Homo sapiens: one gene and its partners. The protein of the gene in region 1 interacts with the protein of each later gene in a biochemical or structural test. Each region holds a gene or a part of one and is shown in the gene's direction. Other genes may lie near its edges.

Region 1 (7,026 bases):
ACTCCAGATGGGAAGGTAAATAATAAAATATATTTAAGTTGTCATTTGTTGACAGAGGAGTAAAACTTAAAGAGTTCTGGCAGATTGAGGTCAGTGATACTGTCATTTAAGAATGAGCCCTGGGTGAGCAGGGAATGGGGTAAGACTTCAGGAGAAGCTGACTGGATTTAGTTTTTGTGCAGCAGATATAAGGTTGCCTGGAGTGCTAACACACATTTACCTGTGATTCTGGAAGCTTCTGGTCACATTGGTACCATCTGCCTAGCACATACCAAATTCCAGGCTCCTAGAAGGAAAGCAGGTGTTCAGCGTAGCTGGTTTAGGCACATCGAGCCATTCTTATCAGTAAGGGAATGTCAACCCTCCTGAAATCCAAGTTCTTGGACTCCAGATAAGGGTCAGCAGGGCTTTCTACAGATAGCTGTCTCAGGTCTGTTATGTTGAATTTCTGCATAAAACATAACATGGGTTTTCCTTTGTGCTCATTATAGAAAATTGGGCTGTGGGGTGGAATTACCTATTTTTGTTGTTTTGTTTTTGTTTTTTGAGATGGAAGTTTCACCCTGTCGCCCAGGCTAGAGAGCAGTAGTGCAATGTTGGTTCACTGCAACCTCTGCCTCCTGGATTCAAGCAATTCTCCTGCCTCAGCCTCCTGAGTAGCTGGAGTTACAGGCACCTGCCATCATGCTCGGCTAATTTTTGTATTTTTAATAGAGACAGGGTTTCACCATGTTGGCCAGGCTGGTCTCGAACTCTTGACCTCAGGTAATCCCACCCGCCTTGGCCTCCCATAGTGCTGGGATTACAGGCGTGAGCCACTGTGCCTGGCCCTAAGTTATTTTATTTTATTTTATTTTTTATTTTTTTATTTTTGAGATGGAGTCTCGTGCTGTCACCCAGCCTGGAGTGCAGTGGTGCGATCTTTGGTTCACTGCAACCTCCGCCTCCCGGGTTCAAGTGATTCTCCTTCCTCAGCCTCCCAAGTAGCTGGGATTACAGGCGCCTGCCATCACGTCTAGCTAAATTTTTGTATTTTTAGTAGAGACAGGGTTTTACCATGTTGGCCAGGTTGGTCTCAAACTCCTGACCTCAGGTGATCTGCTCACTTCAGCCTCCCAAAGTGCTGGGATTACAGGTGTGAGCCACCGCGCCCAGCTATTTTTTATTTTTGAGATGGAGTCTCCCTCTGTCACCCAGGCTGGAGTGCAGTGGTATGATCTCGGCGCACTGCAGCCTCCACTTCCTGGGTTCAAGTGATTGTTTTGCCTCAGCCTCCCGAGTAGCTGGGATTACAGATGCCGGCCACCACACCTGGCTAATTTTTTTATATTTTTAGTAGAGATGGGGTTTCACCATTTTGGCCAGGCTGGTTGGTCTTGAACTCCTGACTTTAAGTGATCCACCTGCCTCTGCCTCCCAAAGTGCTGGGATTACAGGAATGAGCCACCACGCCTGGCCCTACGTTATTTTTAAATAGCTTTAAAGATAAAATATGGTTCCATTCTTGTTTTTAATAATAACTGACAGATTTTATGATACCATTGATTTTTGCTTCCGCTGCAGGTTTATTATTATAATGCTCGGACACGTGAATCTGCATGGACCAAGCCAGATGGAGTTAAGGTTATTCAGCAATCAGAACTGACACCTATGCTTGCAGCCCAGGCACAGGTTCAGGCTCAGGCCCAGGCGCAGGCTCAGGCCCAGGCGCAGGCTCAGGCCCAGGCACAAGCTCAGGCCCAGGCTCAGGCTCAGGCCCAGGCCCAGGCCCAGGCCCAGGCCCAGGCCCAAGCCCAAGCCCAGGCCCAGGCTCAGGCTCAGGCACAAGCTCAGGCCCAGGCCCAGGCTCAGGTCCAGGCCCAGGTCCAGGCACAAGTGCAAGCACAAGCAGTTGGAGCTTCCACCCCTACGACCAGTAGCCCAGCACCTGCAGTATCCACTTCAACATCATCATCCACCCCTTCCTCTACCACTTCTACCACAACAACTGCTACTTCAGTTGCGCAGACAGTATCAAGTGAGTACCACTCAGCATGTGTTTTTATATAGGGGCTAGAGACATGAACAAGTAGGGGACTACATTTCATATTGATCCCAGTGTTTCTGGTATTATCCTTTAATACCAGAATTATTTAAAATACATTTTTGACACTAAAACTTTTGGGTTAGAGGAAAACAGGAATTTATATTAACAGGAGAAATTATTTGCCCAGTTGCAGTTTATGAAGCTAAATTGAGAAAGTGCAAAGTTAGCTGTTCCACTTGGCCAACAGTAATGCCGGGCATTGTGGGTTTGCAAAATAAGTGTAAGTCTTGGTCCCTACCTTACAGTTTCCAGTATTCCTAATCGAGGAGGCAAGAATAACACGTGTTAAACAATTAGATATTGGTGTGCAAAACTATACAGTGAGAAAGATGTAAGAATTTGAGAAGTGGATAAATGAGTGGGTGGACTACATGGGTATTTATCATGAAGGAAACGGAGTAGGGTTTAAGCAGGTTCACAGGTAAGGAAAGGATTTTCAGGTAGGAGAAGCAACATGAATAAAGGTCAGGAAAATGATAAATGTAGTTTATGGGTTTTTAGGAAACTTCTGAGGTGAGAGGGTGTTTTTTTTGAAGGGTCTTAAGAACTAGGCAAATAGGTGAGACAGGCACTGGGGGCCTGTATAAATGCAGTATTTTGGAGGATTTTTTTTGGTGTTGGTTTTTTGGGTGGTGATGAAATAAGGGAGGTTTATTAGGAGCTTCTCAGTAATCTCTTTTAGAATAGTTTCTAGACTGGGATGCGAGTAGGTGAATTGAGGAGTTGCCATAGAAGGGAGCAGTCAGAAAGGCAGGAGAATTTTCAGGTGTAAACTCACAGAGGCCCAAAGAGTAGATCTTTTCTGAAAAGGTGAGAGTCGATTAATAGCAGATTTCAGAGATTAAGAGAGGGACACAGCTATTAATTTGCTTAAAAGATTGTTATTAATGTGACAATATTGCTTTCTTTTTGGGGGGTTTCTTTCTTTTTTTCTTTTTTCTTTTTTTTTTTGTATCAATATATGGATGTTGCTCCTTACTCTGCAGGTTGAGACTAAGCCCGAAAGTACTTAAATAATGATTTTTTTATTTGATTATTTGTTATGGCACTTGTCTCAAGATACACAGCTGTCCCTACAGTGTGATTATAATTTGTATTATTTTACTACCAGGATAATTGATAAGAATAAAGAAAAAATGTGGGGTTTTTTTGTGATTACTTCAGGGACTTGGGAATTATTAGTGTGTAAGAAATACGTATAAGAGAGAAATTAATTCACATTGGCTTCAAATTTGAATTTATTTTATTGATAAAAAGCAACTGAAGCAGTCAAGTAAGGTACATATAATATGGGGATAGCCTTTAAAGATCCTCTTAATGGTTTTTAGACATTTTGTAGCGGGGGAATGTACTGAACAGGAAAATATGAATAGTGTTTTACAAATCTGTTTGCTTTTGTAGTGAAGGTGAATTTTGATATGAAAGTATAACAGTCATACTAGCTAGTCTGTTAAGGGTTGTTACCTTTTTATAGGTTTAGTGCTTCCCAAACCTCTGTGGCAAGGCAGGAGACTACCAGTTTTTATGGGAGACCTGTGGTAGTAATGGGAGAAGGGGATTAATAAAAGCAATGTAGTTTTATGTGGAGGCTCTGTGTTGCTTACATTTTCTTTCCTGCGTTCTTAGAAAGGAGAAATAGTAGTGCTTCGTTTTGTTTTAGGAAAGGTGATGAGCTAGATAATTTAACCATACTATATATAGTCCATGTCTGTTTTCAGAGTAGTGTGTCAGTAAGCTCATAGCTGTCTTGTGTCCTGTTTGTCAGTTTTGCTTTACTCTTCAGTGATTGGGAGGACTTTATTCCCAGAAATATAATATAGCAAAATCATATTCTTTTTACTGCTTTTAAACATCAATTTTGATGTTGTCTACGTATTCCAGTGTGTGTTTTTATTTTACTTGATTTAGTATCATAAAGTGTTGTCTTACTGCAATCTTAATATTTCTCCATCTATTATATATAGTCACTTGTCTTTTTTAGTTAAGATCTGAGGCTGGGTTAGTATATTTTGAGGCCTAGTGCTTCACTAGCTACTTTAGCAAATGAAGTTAGTGGGAATTTACCCACTGAAGTCTTAGATACCATTCTCCCAGTTTCCCATTATTTTATTGCTTTTGTTCTTTTCCTGTCGTGACTCATGGCTGCTAATCAAATTCAGAAAATGCTGTGCTGGAAAGTAAGAGGAATGGGTTGTAAATATTTTTTGTCATCTCCATTGGTGTTCTTTTCCACTTGAAATTTGATGCCCTTATTTATTTTCCTGACTATAGTACTTTGGATCACAATTTTAGCAATTATCTGAATACTATAATAATATTTAAATTTTAATTTTCTGAGCTACAGTATAGATCTGTGGGGTAAATGGGACTAAAAATTAAGAATATATTTTAATCCCAGTTGAGCATAAACTCATTTTGTGCAAGTTTGTGAAAAATGATGAAGAAATCCTACTTCTCAGGGAAGTTGGGAACAATGACCAGATACATTTTCAGCCAGTATAGTAGATTACAAATGCTAAATGGTATATGTATGGGACTGGGCAAATGTTGCATGTACTTTGTATTTTTCACACTGTTATAAAATTATATTAATATGATACTGTACCCTAAGGCTAGGTCTATGCTAGACCAACAATTCATTCCTGGGCCCCTGAAGATACTTGTTTGGCCCTGCTGTCTATTTAGCCAAGGTGAGTCCCTCATTAACAAGTACGAAATTGCTCACATCTTCCCAGCCTAAGTGAGTTTTTCATTATTAGAAGCTAGAAAAAGATACTGACAGATTTTGTTGTCAGTTGGATTATTGGGTGATTTGTATTAAATAGTGTGCTTTTGTTTAGAACAAAGTTGGCATAAAGATTGGGAAAGCACTGTTTTCATTTTATTTCATTTGACAAATTCATTCTTAGTCCGATACAGGTAGACATTTTTTTCTTTACATCAAAAAAAGATGAAGTATTTGTTACCAATGAATTACCAAAATGAATTTTATTTTGGAACTAGATGGGTTATGAATAAATAACAAAATTGTTTTGTAACATGTGAGAATTGAAACTGAAAAGTATGAAATAAGGATTTTAGTTTTTAGTTTGATTTTAAATGCAATTACTAGGAATGGGATGTTTTATTTTCGATATTTAAAAATAATGTGTTAGCAGAACCCAAATGATCCTGAATTTCACATTTTCCTGGTCTCTCACAATGGAAACCTCAGTTTAAAAAAATTTTATTTTTTTAAAATAATGAGAGAAACCTGAGTTGTTTTTGATTCCATTCATTCATATCCAGTTAGTCATTAGTTATTTGCTTATCTTTTTCTGTTCTTTTCTTCCTATGCATCTGTGAGGTTAATTCATCAAATGAAACCTGTTTATTACTCTTCCATACAGGAACCTTTAGTTTGCTATATACCCATTTACCTTCATGAAATCACATAAATAATGTGAATGCATTCTTATAAAAAGTTCAAAGTCTAACAAAACGTATATATTAATAGTAAAATGTGAAAGAGGCATTCACAGAGGGTAACTACCATTAATGTATTTTGTCTTGTATTCTACTAGATAATTTTCTCTATATTTACCTAAGTTCTGCCCTTTTCCTATCCATTTAAGGGCATACTCCTTAGCCTTTTGTTCAAGGCTTTCTAATTTCTGCTTCTGGCCTACCTTTCCAGCCACACAACTCACTAGTTTTGTTGGTATGCCTACTGTTTCACTCATTAATTGCTTGCCTTCAATTTTCTAAACAATTCCTTTTGGTTCTTTACTCTTTGCCTTATTCATACTTTTCTCACTGGTTTATTTTTTTCTTCTACCCCTTCCTGCTGTTTTTCTTGTTGAAATCTTAATTTTTCAAGGCGCAGCATCCCAATATAAACTTTTCTATACCCTCTCACAGTTAGAAATGTTCTTTGGGTCTTGATTTTTACTCCTATATGTTTATCCCATTTTACTTTGTATTCATTTTTGTATTTCATTTAAGTATTTTCAAGCTTCTTGAAGATAAGACCTTTTGACAAATTTCTTGCAGTGCATAGAATGGTCCCTTAAATACTTAAATTACTGAATGTGTAAATGATGAATGAATATAGTAAAATGATTTATGAAGGAGTGATACATGTTTTTGTTTTATCTTTTATCAGCACCCACAACACAAGATCAGACCCCAAGTTCTGCTGTTTCAGTTGCCACGCCTACAGTTAGTGTTTCAACTCCTGCTCCTACAGCCACACCTGTGCAAACCGTTCCCCAGCCGCACCCTCAGACGTTACCTCCTGCTGTTCCTCATTCAGTACCTCAGCCAACAACAGCAATACCTGCTTTTCCACCAGTAATGGTACCTCCGTTTCGTGTTCCCCTTCCTGGCATGCCAATTCCACTTCCAGGTAAACCAACAGATTATAATGGTCTTTCCAGCTATGTTTTCATATTGTCAGTTAGTTTGTTCTCATGTGTCTGTTGCGTTTGAAATTTGCCTTGAATCTCACCTGTTTGAAACGTTTTTGAAAGATTCATGGCTAACTGCAATATTTTCTCTTAAGTTTTGGTAAATGTCCTTTTTTTGTTGTTGTTTACATGTCCTAAAATTAGAGCCACATTTAAAGCTACACTTATTTTGGATAATGCCCTCAATGAGTTAAAAATGATTATCTTTTCATGTAAATAATGTTCTAAATGCAATATTTTTGAAGGGTTGAGTTTATGAAGTTGAGAAATCACGTCACAATAGCTAACACAAGTTGGATGATTTATATACAGTGCACTGTTGTAAGCATGTTACATGCATTAACTCCTTTAATTTTTACAACCCATGTTACGAGATAGGTACACAGACAGGTTAAATTACTTGCCCAAGGTCACATAGCTAATAAGTGATGATGTTGAGATTTGAGCCTGTGCCCTCCACATCCAGATAGTAAGCTTTTAATAACTATGTTA
Region 2 (7,693 bases), on another chromosome or scaffold:
TGAAGAATCCTGCACAAAGCTCTGCCTTCAGTATAAGTAGTGACTGGTTTAGTGGCTACAACCTCTAAGTTTTCAACAACATTAAACTATCTGGTGAAGCTGTGAGTCCCGTGCTAATGAAGCTGTGACGACCTTTCACCATGTGTTTTTAAAAAGCTGACTACTCCTCAATTAGATTTTTAATTCTGATGAAAATGGCATCTATTAAAAGTGAATGCCCTTGAGGATCCACATCAGGAAGGAGGAAGCATAAAGGCTACCAAGCATTGATGACTGTGATGCTGGGGGCAAAGGCCAGTGGAGATTTATCTGTGGTTTTTATTAGGATGGTTGTTTTCATTAGTGCTCTGACTATAAAGTTGCATTGGATTTAAGTGGTCTTTCCTAACCATATTTTCCCAGTAAGCCCTGCTATTTTAGGTGTGCAATTCTGCAAAACAGGAGATTCTTCAGTAAAGACAATATGACATTATAGTAGAATATCTGGCATTTTTTAGAAACATCTGCAGGACATCTAGTTTGGTGTTAACCATGTAGTATACCTGCTTAATACCTGGTAAATACCTGCTTATTCTTAGGAATCCTTTAATGCATAAACATTTTGCTGTGACCTTGGAGGTGGTTCTCATTTTTTTCAAATCCATGTTTCATCTATGAACGACACAGACTGTTCAGATGAGAATACACTGTAGACGGGAGACATAGAAACTCAGAGGGGTACTATCAGGATGGTCAGAAATCCTCAGGGGTAATAGATGGCTCTAAGGTCAGTTTGAAGACAGAACCCAGTAGCCTTTTATTGGTCTCCCCCAGGACTGGCTTTTAAATGCTGATTGGGTGCTACATTCATGAGAGTCCAGAGGGAGAGACCACAAGGTCAGTGGTTCTAACATACATTTAAGTTTTGATATCCCAATTGATGGTGGTAGCCTCCTTCTTTCTTCAGCATCAGAGAAGAGATGTTCCATCCACCAACCTATTTGTGTGACCCAGGAGGGTAAAAATAAAGGATTACAGATGCAGAGAGATCTGCTGTAGGACCACAATTGGTGAGGTGCTTGGTTCATAATCAGTGGACAAAGAGTCCTTACCGAGAGCAGTGGCTCCTTTCCTGTGTTAGTTTCTGCCAGGCCAATGACCCTGAAGCCTGAAGGAAAGGTTTTTGCTTGTTTTTAAACCACTGTTTACATTAACTAGAGCAAAATGCTGAAAAAAACATCAAGAATTAAGACGGGCCAAAATAACCACAATAAAGTCAAATGTAAGACATATCAGGGACAAACTTTCATTTTTTGCAGAAAAGATTATCAATCTTTTACATGTACTTCTAACTGGATATGACATGCAGATTAACCTGGCCTGAGGATGATGAAACCCAACCTTACATTCAAAATAATATCAATACATTTTCAAGTCTATTTATACGTTCTAAACAGAAGTAATTCATATTACAATGGCCTCCTTATTCTGCTTTTCCACTTTTTAGTTTTTATTTTTATGGAGACAGAGCCTCGCTCTGTCACCCAGGCTGGAGTGCAGTGGCATGATCTCGGCTCACTGCAACCTCTGCCTCCCGGGTTCAAGCCATTCTCCTGCCTCAAGCCTCCTGAGTAGCTGGGATTACAGGCACCTGCCACCATGCCCTGCTAATTTTTGTATTTTCAGTAGGGACTGGGTTTTTCCATGTTGGCCAGGCTGGTCTCGAACTCCTGACCTCAGGTGATCCACCCACCTCAGCCTCCCAAAGTGCTGGGATTACAGGCGTGAGCCACCGTGCCTGACCCCCTTCCACTTTTTAAACAACAGTAATGAAACTTATTAAGTAGGGGGCTTCAATCTGGAAACTCCTTATCTGTTCTGCTGCTTCTCCTGCCAACAGTCTCCCCAGCTCCCCACCAATTTCTTAACCACAGGGCTTCTGCACATGCTATTGTCATTTCCTTTGCCTGAATGCCCTTCACTGTCCTTATTTGCCTTGTAATTGCTTAATACATTTTTAATATCTTTCCCAAGGTTGGGCGCAGTGGCTCATGCCTGTAATCCCAGCACTTTGGGAGGCCAAGGCAGTCGGATCACCTGAGTTCGGGAGTTTGAGACCAGCCTGACCAATATGGAGAAACCCAATCTGTACTAAAAATACAAAATTAGCCAGGCGTGGTGGCACATGCCTGTAATCCCAGCTACTCGGGAGGCTGAGGCAGGAGAATCGCTTGAACCTGGGAGGCGGAGGTTGCCGTGAGCTGAGATTGCGCCATTGCACTCTAGCCTGGGCAATAAGAGTGAAACTATATATATCTTTCCCGATAGCATGAAAGCTCCCTAAGACCAAACCATGTCTGTCTTGTTCACCACTGTACTCATGATGCCTTGCACAGTACCTCACACTTAGTAGGCTGCCAACAAATGTTAACTTGAATCAGACCCTTAAGACTCAGCTCAAACATCATCTTCTTTGGGAAGGTGTCCCTGAGCCTCTGACACTCCGATAGTTACCTCTTTCATGTGCTTCAAAGGCTTCCTGTTCATATCTGTTATAGTGCAGTGCAGTTCTTTAATGGTCTGTCTCTCCCAGTAGGCTCTGAAGTTCTAAAAGGCGGAAACTGTGTCATCTTCATCCTTCTTACTCATGACACTCTGTATCACCTAGTGTACTCTAAGGAGCTGAAGAAATGTCTACTGGGCAGATTACTGAACCATGTTTGCGCTTGGAGGGCCCTCAGCTATGGACCACACCTATGGCACAAACAGGAATTACGCATTGGCTAAACAGGTCATGTCTTTCTGAAGCACCCATTTTGACTCAATTTTTCAGGAGAGGAGACATTTATATAAATTGTGTTTGTGTGTGTGTGTATGTAGTGAGTTGAATTCAAAATATACACTAAACTTTAAGTAAGTAAAACGGGAACTTCAACAAAGCAAAGTTACCATGGGGCTCCTTGAGCACCCTGTTTGGGAGCATGTATTCCCTCTTCTCTGCTGTCCTTTGGTAGCTTGCCACCTTAGGAGTAGAGAAGTCACACCTCCATGATTAAAAAGAAAGTCAGCCGGGCACGGTGGCTCACGCCTGTAATCCCAGCTCTTTGGGAGGCCAAGGCAGGCGGATCACCTAAGCTCAGGAGTTTGAGAGCAGCCTGACCAACACGGAGAAACCCCATCTCTACTAAAAATGCAGAATTAGCTGGGCGTGGTGGTGGGTCCCTGTAATCCCAGCTACTTGGGAGGCTGAGGCAGGAGAATCGCTTGAACCCGGGAGGTGGAGATTGCGGTGAGCTGAGATTGCACCTTTGCACTCCAGCCTGGGCAACAAGAGGGAAACTCTGTCTCAGAATTAAAAAAAAAAGAAAGTTAATGACAATGACAAAGCTAGAATTAAAGCTGTTTTCAGATATCTGGTGTTCTTTTCATTCTACTGCCCAAGTTAGCTGTCTCCTTGCACCTATAGCATGGTCAAATGCATCCTAATGCACTCTCAATAAATATGTTCAGATACAAATTCCATTCAGCATATTAAATTTAGGCCGAAGGGGAGAAGGTCAAAAGGAGTCATAGTCTGGAGATATCTTCAGTAATAGGTGTATGGCATGTTTATAGATTTCATATTTAAATTTACTTTATAGGTAGCTTTCCTAGCATATGTGCTCCTATTCTATGATGGTGGTTCATTCAAATCCTACCCACCCCGTCTAATGTTCTCAGTGTGTACCTTTACTTTTAAAGGGCATCATTTAAAGAGGATGGAAGAAATACAGTGTGGGTACTATATTTTGTCCTGAGGACAAAATGCTAGGTATGACGCAAGGACTTAAGACTATCGTCCCAACAGTGCCCTGCTGCTGCACAAAAACACCTAGCATTTGTCTAGGGATTTTCATTTACAACAAAGCTTTGACACACATGATCTTATTCACTCCCCACAACAACTCTAAACTAGTTCGGGAACCTGAAAATAGCACTCAATTCAATTGCTAGCTGTATGTAAGTGTTTTGGTTATAGAACCTAACAATCCCCTAGGGATTAAGCGGTGGGCGCCTGCTGCTTCAACAACCCTGCAGCAAGGGAATAAAGGAACAACTGTATTTCTTCGGTCACAACGTAATCACGACAACAGAAAGCACTCACTCTTTCCACTCTGACCCACACACAGTCTGTCGAGGCAATTAATCAGCACTCCCGGTGGTTTTCCTATAGGATGCCAGTTCCCTTGCCAATCAAGTCTTTCCACAGACTGTAGCAGGACCACACCCCCGGAGAGGCCTCAGGGAGGGAAGGTGCTGTGGCCCACAGAAGTGAAAGCTGATACTCAGGTTGACCCGCCAGTGAAACTTACAGGCGGATCTTCCCGGGCCTCAGTTTCCCCATCTCTAAAATGGGCTACCCTTCCTTTCTCTTGACTAGTTCCCTCCCTGTTCTCGCTGGGCCACTAGGAAGTGAAATCAGTGCCTAACCGCAGCTGAAAGTGCTCTGTTAGGCTCCAGTCACCGCGCCGGGCATGCTCAGTAGCTGGGGCCGGCTCGGCTGCGGGAGTAGGAAGCAGCTTTGCGCGCCCGGGCGGCCGATGCGGGCACTTTGAAGAATCACGTGTGTTGAGGCCCTCTTAAAGAGATAGGCACCTACTTTTCCCTCCACCCTAAACACCGCCCTGAGGGCGGCGGCGACCGTGGTAATTGCAACTGCTCAGGGGCAGGGCTTGCCCCAGCGCCGAGTAGTGGCAACGGCGTGGTTGCGTCGGGGGTGCCTGGGAGCCTGGAGTCCCGGGGGCCTGAAATCGGCAGCTTCCCGGGCAGACACTCTCTCCCTCAGGAAGAGGTGCCGCCGAGTCAGCGCGGGGCAGTGTGAGCGCCCCGAGGTGCTTTCTCAGTTGAGGAGAGGTGGGGTTACAGGGCACAGGTGACAGGGCCGGAGAAAGATGGAGCAGCCCGGGGCGGCGGCGTCGGGAGCGGGAGGCGGCAGCGAGGAACCCGGTGGGGGCCGGAGCAACAAGCGGAGCGCGGGGAACCGGGCCGCCAATGAAGAGGAAACGAAAAACAAACCCAAATTGGTGAGTGCTCCCGCAGCCCCCGCCGGCCTTAGGGACAGGGAGAGCCCCGGGATCCTCCTGCCATTGAACACGGGGGCACCCGGGGCCCCCTCCCAAGGATGACCGCGACCTCGCTGTGCAACTCGGGGAGCCGCTAAAGGAGTGGCCACGCCGAGGCGCGGAGACGGCGTGGGGGCGGAAGAGCACCCCCTTCTCTACTTAACCCCTTTCTCACTCTTGTCAGCCCGGGAGGCGGTGCGGGAAGGAGAAAGGCCCAGCCCCAACTTGGGGACACCCCGAGTACTGGGTAGGGCTGTTGTTTGTCTAACTTGTGGGCGCAAACCTTTGCGCGATTCCATTCTCCTCCCACTTCTTGTTAGTTGCTGTTTTGCCTCCTAACGCGTAGGGTCCGGGGCAGGGGAACCTCCCTCCTTTTTATTCCAAGTCCTTGGGAGCCCACCTACAGCTTCGCAAATCAAGAAGAACACTATTTATGCTCCCAGTCTTTCTACTTTACCAGAAATCTCAGGAAGAGGCGCCTACGTGCCTTTTTCCTCCTCCTTGCCTCTCTCCATGTGCTCTCCCAAGAAATGTTTCTTTGGAAGGGTGGGGGCGCGTGGGAGTTTGAGGCTGGGTGAGGTACCACCAACTGTCGAGTGTGTGTAATAGGCATAGTCATACAGTACTTCCACTTAGTTGATTAAGAACGCTCAAAAGCAGTAGGCACAAACTGTGCAAATCTCACCGTGCTGATAGTGTGAACCGATGGTAGCAGTCCATTTCCTGCCACTGAATGTGCAGAGGAATGAAATCGATGAGGCCTGGTATTGCATTGGGAAATACTGGAGTTTCCTCAGCTCATCAGAAGGGTTCCGCTTTTTGTAAACTTTCTAATTTGGGTGGTGTGAGGGGAAAGGGTTTTCCTGTACAAATTCAGCAGATACTCCTTAGAGCTGTATTCTTAGTCCAGATCCGAAGCACAAGCCACATGTTGAATGTATAGATTTCAGCTTTAACTACCAACTTGATTATAATAGACAAGGAGAGGGTGACATATAAATAAAGCCGTTTCTTATGGCATCTGGCCATTTGGTTTGGATCCAGTACAAAACTGTGGTTTAATCAGTGATTAAAAATTTAAGTAAAAAGTTAACTGATAGTTTCCACAAATGGTTTGGTACGTCTAGCAAGAATCTGCCACTTTTAAGAAGTATGCTTTCGAGAAAAAAAAAAACACTTATCTCTGTTAGTAGTAACACCTTGATTATATTCTTCTCTTCCCTTTAGCCATTTGTCCTGATTCATCTTTTATGTTTTACTTGCTTTGACAAGGTAACTAGATAGTTATGAGATCGTATCATTTTCAGTTCCTAGCTAACTTCACTGTTCCGGTTCCTAGCTAACTTCACTGTTCCGTGTTGAACATAGCTTGATACGGTAGAACAAGATTTGAATCCAAGAGTTTGTTAATATTAACATGAATTTTCTTTTTTTGCTCAAACATAACTTTTGAGCCTTACGTGATTTTACAAGCAGATGTGTCAGAGTTAACAAAAACAAATTTAGGAAGACATTGTGGCACATTTTAAGGCAAGCAAGTTGACCAAACAGTAAGATTTAGTAAGCTTTTCAGGAAAGAATTCATCTGGGATTCTTAGAAGTTTGCTAGTAAGATACAACTTTACTTAGATGAAATTTTTTTATTTTGAGTATTATGTTAATAATCTCTGAACTAGTCCTTAATTTGTGTGTGTATATGAGTGTAAAGGAGTTGTGGTATGGGATTATAAAAGAGAGCCATATGGTGATAGAAATTATTTGTGTAGGTGATCTTGGGGCATAGGGGTTCTTAAACTCCTGAAATTGTATGAAAATATTTGAGTGTATATGGGTACATTTATTTTTCTGGGCCCCATGGCTTTCATCAGTTTTTCAAAGGCATCCATTACCTATAGAAGAGTAAGAACTATGGCATTACAAAAGATAGAAAGTAAAGGAAAGAATAGTTGATTCCACTCTAAGTTACTGAGTAGGGAAGAAGGGGAAATGGCATTGACCACACAGGTGATTGATATTGAAACGAATTCTTCTAGTGGTAAAAAAGAAGTTAACTACTCAATGTCTACATAGATTAAAATTTCCGCTACAGAGGAAAATTAATTCAGTCGCTCCAGTATAATGGATTCATAAGGTATAAGGCTTGTGTAGTTTGGTTGTTTTCATTTAGTTCCTCAGAATTCTGGAAAAATGGAAATGGAACACATATTTTCTTTTCTTTTTTTTTTTTTGGGACGAAGTCTCGCTCTGTTGCCATGGCTGGAGTCCAGTGGCGCGATCTTGGCTCACTGCAACCTCTGCCTCCCGGGTTCAAGTGATTCTCCTGCCTCAGCCTCCTGAGTAGCTGGGATTACAGGCACGTGCCACCACACCCAGCTAATTTTTGTATTTTTAGTAGAGACGGGATTTCACCATGTTGGTCAGCCTGGAAAGCAGATTTTCTATAGAGAGGAACTGCTTTCATTTATATCCTCAACTTTTTAATGAGTATTAGTGAGAAATTTTTCAGAGTGGCATTTCAACACTATAATGATTTCTATTTAAGATTACTTAAATAAAAATTTAATGGAATTCACTTCAGTTTTTTTCATATAAGCATCCTCATAATGACCCTT
Region 3 (7,026 bases), on another chromosome or scaffold:
TTATAGAGTCAAAAAATTTTCTGCTTCTGTCAGTTATAAAAATTTAATAGGGAAAATGTATGTTAATCTTAAAACTTTGGAGATCTACAACAAATCTGACATTACATGAAAGTGCTTTGAAACGAGAAATGGCACATTTCTTAAAAATGATTTTACTTAATATGTATTGATACTAATAACTGCTAATTCAATAAAAACTCAAAAATATTAGTAAATAAAAATTTATTGTTTAACTTGGATTTGGCTAGATAGAGACTTATCATTATAAGACTCTATCTAGCCAAATCAAAATTCTGAAAGTTTTGTCAGTGGAAAGGAAGAAATTTGTAACTCAGACATGAATCTACTTATATCTAAAGACTGATGCTTCCTACCTCACACCATCTTTTGGTACTTATTTTATTGGAAAGACAATTTACATATAAAAGCTATGTATTTGAAAATGCACAAAAAATTTATATATCATATTAGCAAAGTACCATTTGGGATTATGGTTTTTAAAAGCTTGAGAATATTACTTATTTACTTTTGCAGCTTTCCATGCAGCTGTTTTTTTTTCTCTCTGTTTTTGACTTTGGAGATAAAGTTACTGATTTTTATCTTTACTTTTCTCTTTATTTTGTGCCTTGGTCTTGAAAAAGTAATAAATATTTCTTACTGAGGCCCCCTCCTGCTTTGTTCTGCCATCTAAGGTGATTACAATGCTCAAGTCTCTTTGTTGGTTGCCTTTGACTAATGCTTTTCAGCAGCCCCGGGCTCAGCTCCTGGTTCCCAGTATGGCACAATGACCAGGCAGATATCTCGACACAACTCTACTACTTCTTCGACATCTTCTGGTGGATACAGACGAACTCCCTCTGTGACTGCTCAATTTTCTGCTCAGCCTCATGTTAATGGAGGTCCACTTTATTCTCAAAATTCAAGTAAGCTTGTGCTTTGCAGGCATACAGCAACAGTGGAGCTCCTTTTGAAGGAAATTATTTGAAACTGTTATTCTTGCCAGTGATAGACAACAATTGAAAACCATGATGTTTCATGTTTATTTTTGTTTTAGGATATTAGTCCTTGAATCATACCATTTTAAGAGTAATTGTTTACCACTTTCTCTTCCAAAATTTAGACTTACCAAGTATACTTAACTAAATTTATCGAGACGTGTCTATATTGAGTATACCAAAATTTAACTTTAATATGCGATTTTATTACATAAGTAGAACTAGAGAACAAAAACATTGCAGAAATAAACTGAATTTATTGGCATGTTTGAGACAGCGTAGTAATGGTAAAATTAAAGACACAAACATTGTCAAAGTTTTCCTTCAAATTAATATAATGAAATTGCTGGCTATCACTTTTAAGGTCATTAACGTGTTCAGAAATGAGTTCAAAACCGATTAAAACTGTTTGTGATGCCTGCTTAATTACTCTGTCTTTGAATAATTCTAATGGTGGGAATTTCTTTTGATTTCTTTCTGTTTACCTCAAATTGCACATCTCAACACTAATTGCAGTCAGTGTTTAAAAGCTGGTAAGAAAAGAAAATAGTTTTAGCATATAATGTTAGGAAGTTAGAATAGTGTAGGGTAGTCATTAATATCACTTTCCATATTAAGATGTTCAATGCAAAAAGGAAAAAAAACAAAATTAGAAATGAACCTGTTGTCCACTGTTTGCTTTTAGCTTAAAAAGTTGTGCCCACTGGGCATAGAATGAGACAAGCTTTCCTACATGGCTTTTGTGGCTCTTTCTAGAGCCACATGTTATTTTTGTTTATATAAAAACACTTAATACTCAGTGAATTCTCCATATTTACATAGGAGGTTGCTTTAAGTTCTTTTTATTTATAATGAATGACCTGTATATGTATTTTAAAGCAGAGCTAGGGGAAAGTTTTTTTTTTTTTTTTTTTTTTTTTTGAGACAGAGTTTCACTCTTGTCGCCCAGGCTGGAGTGCAGTGGCGCGATCTCGGTCCACTGCAACCTCACCCTCCCAGGATCAAGCGATTCTCCTGCCTCAGCCACCTGAGTAGCTGGGATTACAGGCGCCTGCCACTACACCTAGCCAATTTTTGTATTTTTAGAAGGGACAGCATTTCACCATGTTGGCCAGGCTGGTCTCGAACTCCTGATCTCAGGTGATCCACCCACCTCAGCCTCCCAAAGTGGTGGGATTACAGGCGTGAGCCACTGAAAGTTCTCATTAGTTTTTTGTTTAAATTTTAAACATAAATTATGTTATAGCAAAAATTCCTAAGAATTGAAAACCACTTTATCAGAAATATCAAAATTCACAAATAATCCCAAAATTTATATAGCTTTTTTTCCAGACTAAAATATTAAAGCTACTGAGAAGTGTTAAACTTCACTAAATAGGATTTTACCTAACATTTGGTATCAAAAGGTAGCCAGTGTCTGTCTAAATATTCCAGATTATCTAATAATTCACTTCACTTGTTTCATCAACTTTATTTTTTTCATATTCTGAATTTTTAGATCCCATCTTTTTGTGTATTATTTTTCTTTTCCCCACTTAGACATTTAATTTACTCTGCAAATAGGATTTTTGTGACTTTTTTATATAATACATAGTTTTATAGTTTTATTTTAGCAATGCTTGTGTGGATTATTTTCAAACCGTATACTTTAATTAATGACCACATTCTTTTGAATATTGGAAAGCAAATTTGGCCTCAGATTTTAAATAAATTATTATGTTTTGTCAAATTAATTATCCTTCAATCTGAGTTACTGTTGGTGTTGTAGTAGTAGTAGTAGTAGTACGTGAATGTTTTTAGTGTTTTGATGTGCACATTTTCCCTTCTGTCTAAATGTAGTAATGATTAGTATCTTCACAGCATAGCTTTTCTTTTTCATTACATACTAACCAGCATGGCTAGTTACTAAGAGTTGTTTCTAAACACTTTTTTAGGTTTGTGAGAGTTTTTTGTTTTTTAAGTCAAAACCTCTAACCTTTTATTTAGGAGCCTTCTATAGAGTATTAGAATGAAATAGGATTGCTTTCATAGTGAATTGAATGTTATCTTTAGCTATACAATGAATATTAATGCACATAATTGCTTTGTTACTTCTTTGAACACTGAACTTCTTTCAAATTTTTATGCTTACCAACAGAATTTGCATGTTGGATTAATTGAAACAACCTTTTGATTAATCCTTGGTAACCAATAAATTGTTTTTCTCTATCAATTTAGTGTTACTACTTGGTGACTACCGATAGACTAAATTTTGCTATCTAGTCCTACTGACTTTTTCTAAGCAATCTTTGGCAATTACTGTCTTGTTAAAGTGAGACAAAGTCACAAACATATGAATGTTTACTTCTAGTGTATGTTATAATTTTTAATACATGAGTATTTGGTATTAATTTCCTGTCAATTATGTCATCTCCACAAATGCATATGAATGTGTTTCAAGCTATCCAATGAGTTGTTAAAAATTACTTTAATGCAAAGAACTACGTATTTTAACTTATTGGAGATCAGGTTTCCTTTTTCAGAACAGTGATGAAAAGGTCACTTTTGAGATATCCCATGAAACTCTGACTGATTAACATGATATATTCCCTTGTAAATTTAGGACTGATATTTTTAAACATAAAATTGCCAACTTAAAAAAATAACAACCTTGTTTTACAAACAAGAGTTTTTCCTGGAGAGCTGTGTGTGAATTTAGATATATAATAAGAACTGTCTTTAAAGGAAACCTGTGATTAATATTTTTATTGATATATGAAATAAATAGCTATTATATATTTGTTTTATTTATTTGGGTCCTAATTTACAACATTACCTTAAAGCTAGACAAACCTGTTATAGCTATGGCAAAGACACAATATTCTGGAAACCTATGTAGGTATTTCATTGTTACCTATTTTAGAAGTCTTTCCTTAGAATTTGAAAATTTTATTTTACTAAAGTGAATGTGATGGTAAATTTAAATCCTCCCCAAACAATGTAACATTAGGATTGAATTAAGTATATTTGTTCTTTTATAAAATTAATTAATTGGCTAAGCACAACTTGGCCTTTAGGTTTGCTTGTGGGAAATGTACTCCAAGGTTCTGCAGGTTTTTGTTTTGTTTTTTGTTTTGTTTTGTTTCATTTGCAAACTGTTCTTTGCATACTTATGTTTGTGGTCCTTGTAACTGACTTCTGCTTTTTGTTTGTTTCCTTTTCTTTCCTTTATCTGTTTTACTTCCCCCATACTGTGTTGTTGCTACCAGTTTCTATTGCTCCACCCCCTCCCCCTATGCCTCAGTTGACTCCACAGATACCTCTCACAGGCTTCGTGGCCAGGGTGCAGGAAAACAGTAAGTTTGGAAAAACTGAGCTATGGAAGAGTAGAGGCTGTCTCCTTATAGCATGCATGGCTGACGATGAGTCATCGTTTTCCTTACTTTTATTGAGAAGCTAATCTTGAAAATAGGTGCAGACATGTTACTGAAACTGAAGAGCACGGTCTTCAGTTTTTTCTCTTTGTGTGCATGGTTACTGACCCATATAAATTTCAAAGCTGCAATTTTCTTATGTCTTTACATGATCCTAAAACAGGAGATCTGATCTTTACATATTCTTAAGGAAAGAATAATCAAACACAAAAATTCAAATTATATGGAAACTTTTAGCTTCTAACAGTTACTAGAATTAGAAGACATTTTTAATTCTAATAAATTTATCAAGAGATAGGTAGATATACTGTAAGATTAAATTTAATATGAAATTGGGGCAGATTTTCCCCCCTTAATTTCAAAATTTTAGGGAAAGCTTTGTAGCCTCAGATTTTTGTACATACATGATATTGAACCTACGTAAAGGTTCATTGTTAGGATAAGATTGAATGACCAGGAATAAGTAAATTACATTCATGCTATCCATTTCAGTGTGAGTGATAAGCAATTTAGCATCCTTTTCACATTTTGGCTACATCCAGGCCCACGAAGATTGTTCCTGAATATGAAAATCAGTTAACTTTTTTAGATCTTCTCTCGAATGAAGTTCAGGGATTTTTTTTTGTGGGGGGGGAGAAGTTATTTTGGATATATGGCTTTAATCAGGATAGACTAGTTTATATTACTGCCTGATTACTTTTGAAATTCCAGAAGATGTGTAATCCTAACTGCATGATCACAGTGAATCTTATATAAAGTGAAAAATACCACTATTACTGAATTATAATATGCTAGAAAAGCTGTTGATGGTAATGTGGTCTATTTTTAATTTACTTCATTTGGACCATCACCATGAAAATAAATCTCAGGATGGTTTGAACAAATGAATAACCCACTTGCCCAGCCTATCCTCCAAGAAAATATATTGTGGCAAATTCCATTCTTCAGCTTTTGCTGACCCTGTTGTGTTATTCTCCCCATTCCCTCCCTCCTGCCAGTCAAATATTTGTGTACCCGATGTTACGTGCCAGACTCCGGGAAGAATACCAGCAGTTTAAGACAAAAGCCCCTTCCTTCAGGAAATGTGTGATCCAATTGGCTTGTTATAAAATGTTGTTTTGTAATGTTGAAATTTCTGAGTGTAAGCCATCCTTACTGTTAATATGTGTTTGAAAACCCTAATGTGTGCAAACATTTAAAAAGATATGAATAATCAGCCTGGGCAACATGGCAAGACTGTCTGTACAAAAAAATAAAAAATTAGCCAGGTGTAGTGGCATGTGCCTGTAGTTCCAGCTACCAGGTAGGCTGAGGCTGGGGCATCATTTGAGTCCAGGACGTCAAGGCTGCAGTGAGCCATGATCACACTACTGCACTCCAGCCTAGACGTGCAAAAATAAATAGAGTGCAAAAATAAATAAATGCATGGATGGATGGATAGATAGATGTGAATCTTATTTTTAAAAATAAATGAGTAAGGGTAAACTGCTGGTCATTAATGCTGCAGAGTTTAAAAACAAGGCCAGTGTAAACTTTTGAACTGCCATATCAGTAAGAATTATTAGGAAATAATTTAAAATAGCCATAATGAACATCAGTTTTGTGGGTCCAAAGTGACTGACTAGCTATTTGGTAAATCTTTTCTTTATATAGAAATCCAGTATTAGTGTACATTATTCTAGGCATGTGTGGTCTTTGCTAAAGAGGCTCTTGGTACTATATTAGTTCTTTTTACCAAACATATGAACTTGGGTCAGTCAGTGATTCTCCTTGTGCCACAGATTCCCTAACTTTATTTGGTTTCTGTTTTCTTTGAAAGTGTGTTAGGAGGATTGGTGTTAAAATATGTATCAGTACTTTAAACGTTTTATGAAGTACAAATTTTATGTGTTCTCTTAAATACCCAGTTTCTTATGACACTCAAAGTGGGTGATAATGAATGCATGTAGCAGCCTATTAATAAGTATTTCAGTTTAAGATATGAGCCTCTAAAAAAGTCAGCAGTGTGTTTACATCTCTTTATGATTATGCAGAGAATTAGATTAACCAAGACTTCCTTCGCCATAATTTGAAGATAAGACATGTAGATTTACAGCAGTTGGACATAAAGACAATTTCGTGAAAACATTAAACTAATGTGATAAATCAAGAGTAAATGCAAGGTACCAACATACATAATTTACACATTAAGCCAAATTAAGGATATGAACTATGGCTGTTTGATGTCAGGAGGGGTCTGTACCCATTTTCCTCTCCTCAATAATATTAAAAAGTTTTATAGAGGAAGTTATGGGCAAAGATAAAATGGATCTAGGAATGAGGCAGAAAAATTAATTGTAGACCCGTTTGATAGGTGTTATAGTGAGCATTACCATATAGGGTTTGTTTTCTAATAGCCCTTTCATCCCTCGAGAGGATAAAATAGAAATCACAGCATTGAAGTGGTTATGGAAATAGGGTCATTATCTGCAAATATTTTAAACCTGGAGCCCTTGGTTGTATATTCAGCACATTATTCCAAGGAGGGTAGACTAAACGTTTAAACCTATATGACAGATAGATTATGGCTGATTTCTTTGATCACGTAAATAGCCCCAGAAATTGGCATTTGATTTAGT

Evidence for each region. Proteins that work in one complex are often made in the same cells at the same time.
Region 2: the proteins of TCERG1 (region 1) and DIAPH2 form a complex in vitro, tested with the Homo sapiens proteins (one study listed by BioGRID).
Region 3: the proteins of TCERG1 (region 1) and ABI1 form a complex in vitro, tested with the Homo sapiens proteins (one study listed by BioGRID).

The regions. Positions count from the first base shown.
Region 1 is NC_000005.10:146,457,321-146,464,346, forward strand, and holds part of TCERG1 (transcription elongation regulator 1), read left to right. Parts: coding exon 1-15; intron 16-1,563; coding exon 1,564-2,017; intron 2,018-4,697; exon of another isoform or gene 4,698-4,776; intron 4,777-6,230; coding exon 6,231-6,473; intron 6,474-7,026. UniProt on the Homo sapiens protein: Transcription factor that binds RNA polymerase II and inhibits the elongation of transcripts from target promoters. Regulates transcription elongation in a TATA box-dependent manner.
Region 2 is NC_000023.11:96,680,149-96,687,841, forward strand, and holds the start of DIAPH2 (protein diaphanous homolog 2), read left to right. Parts: upstream 1-4,693; 5' UTR 4,694-4,910; coding exon 4,911-5,042; intron 5,043-7,693. UniProt on the Homo sapiens protein: Could be involved in oogenesis. Involved in the regulation of endosome dynamics.
Region 3 is NC_000010.11:26,752,959-26,759,984, reverse strand, and holds part of ABI1 (abl interactor 1), read left to right. Parts: intron 1-746; coding exon 747-923; intron 924-4,243; coding exon 4,244-4,330; intron 4,331-7,026. UniProt on the Homo sapiens protein: May act in negative regulation of cell growth and transformation by interacting with nonreceptor tyrosine kinases ABL1 and/or ABL2. May play a role in regulation of EGF-induced Erk pathway activation. Involved in cytoskeletal reorganization and EGFR signaling.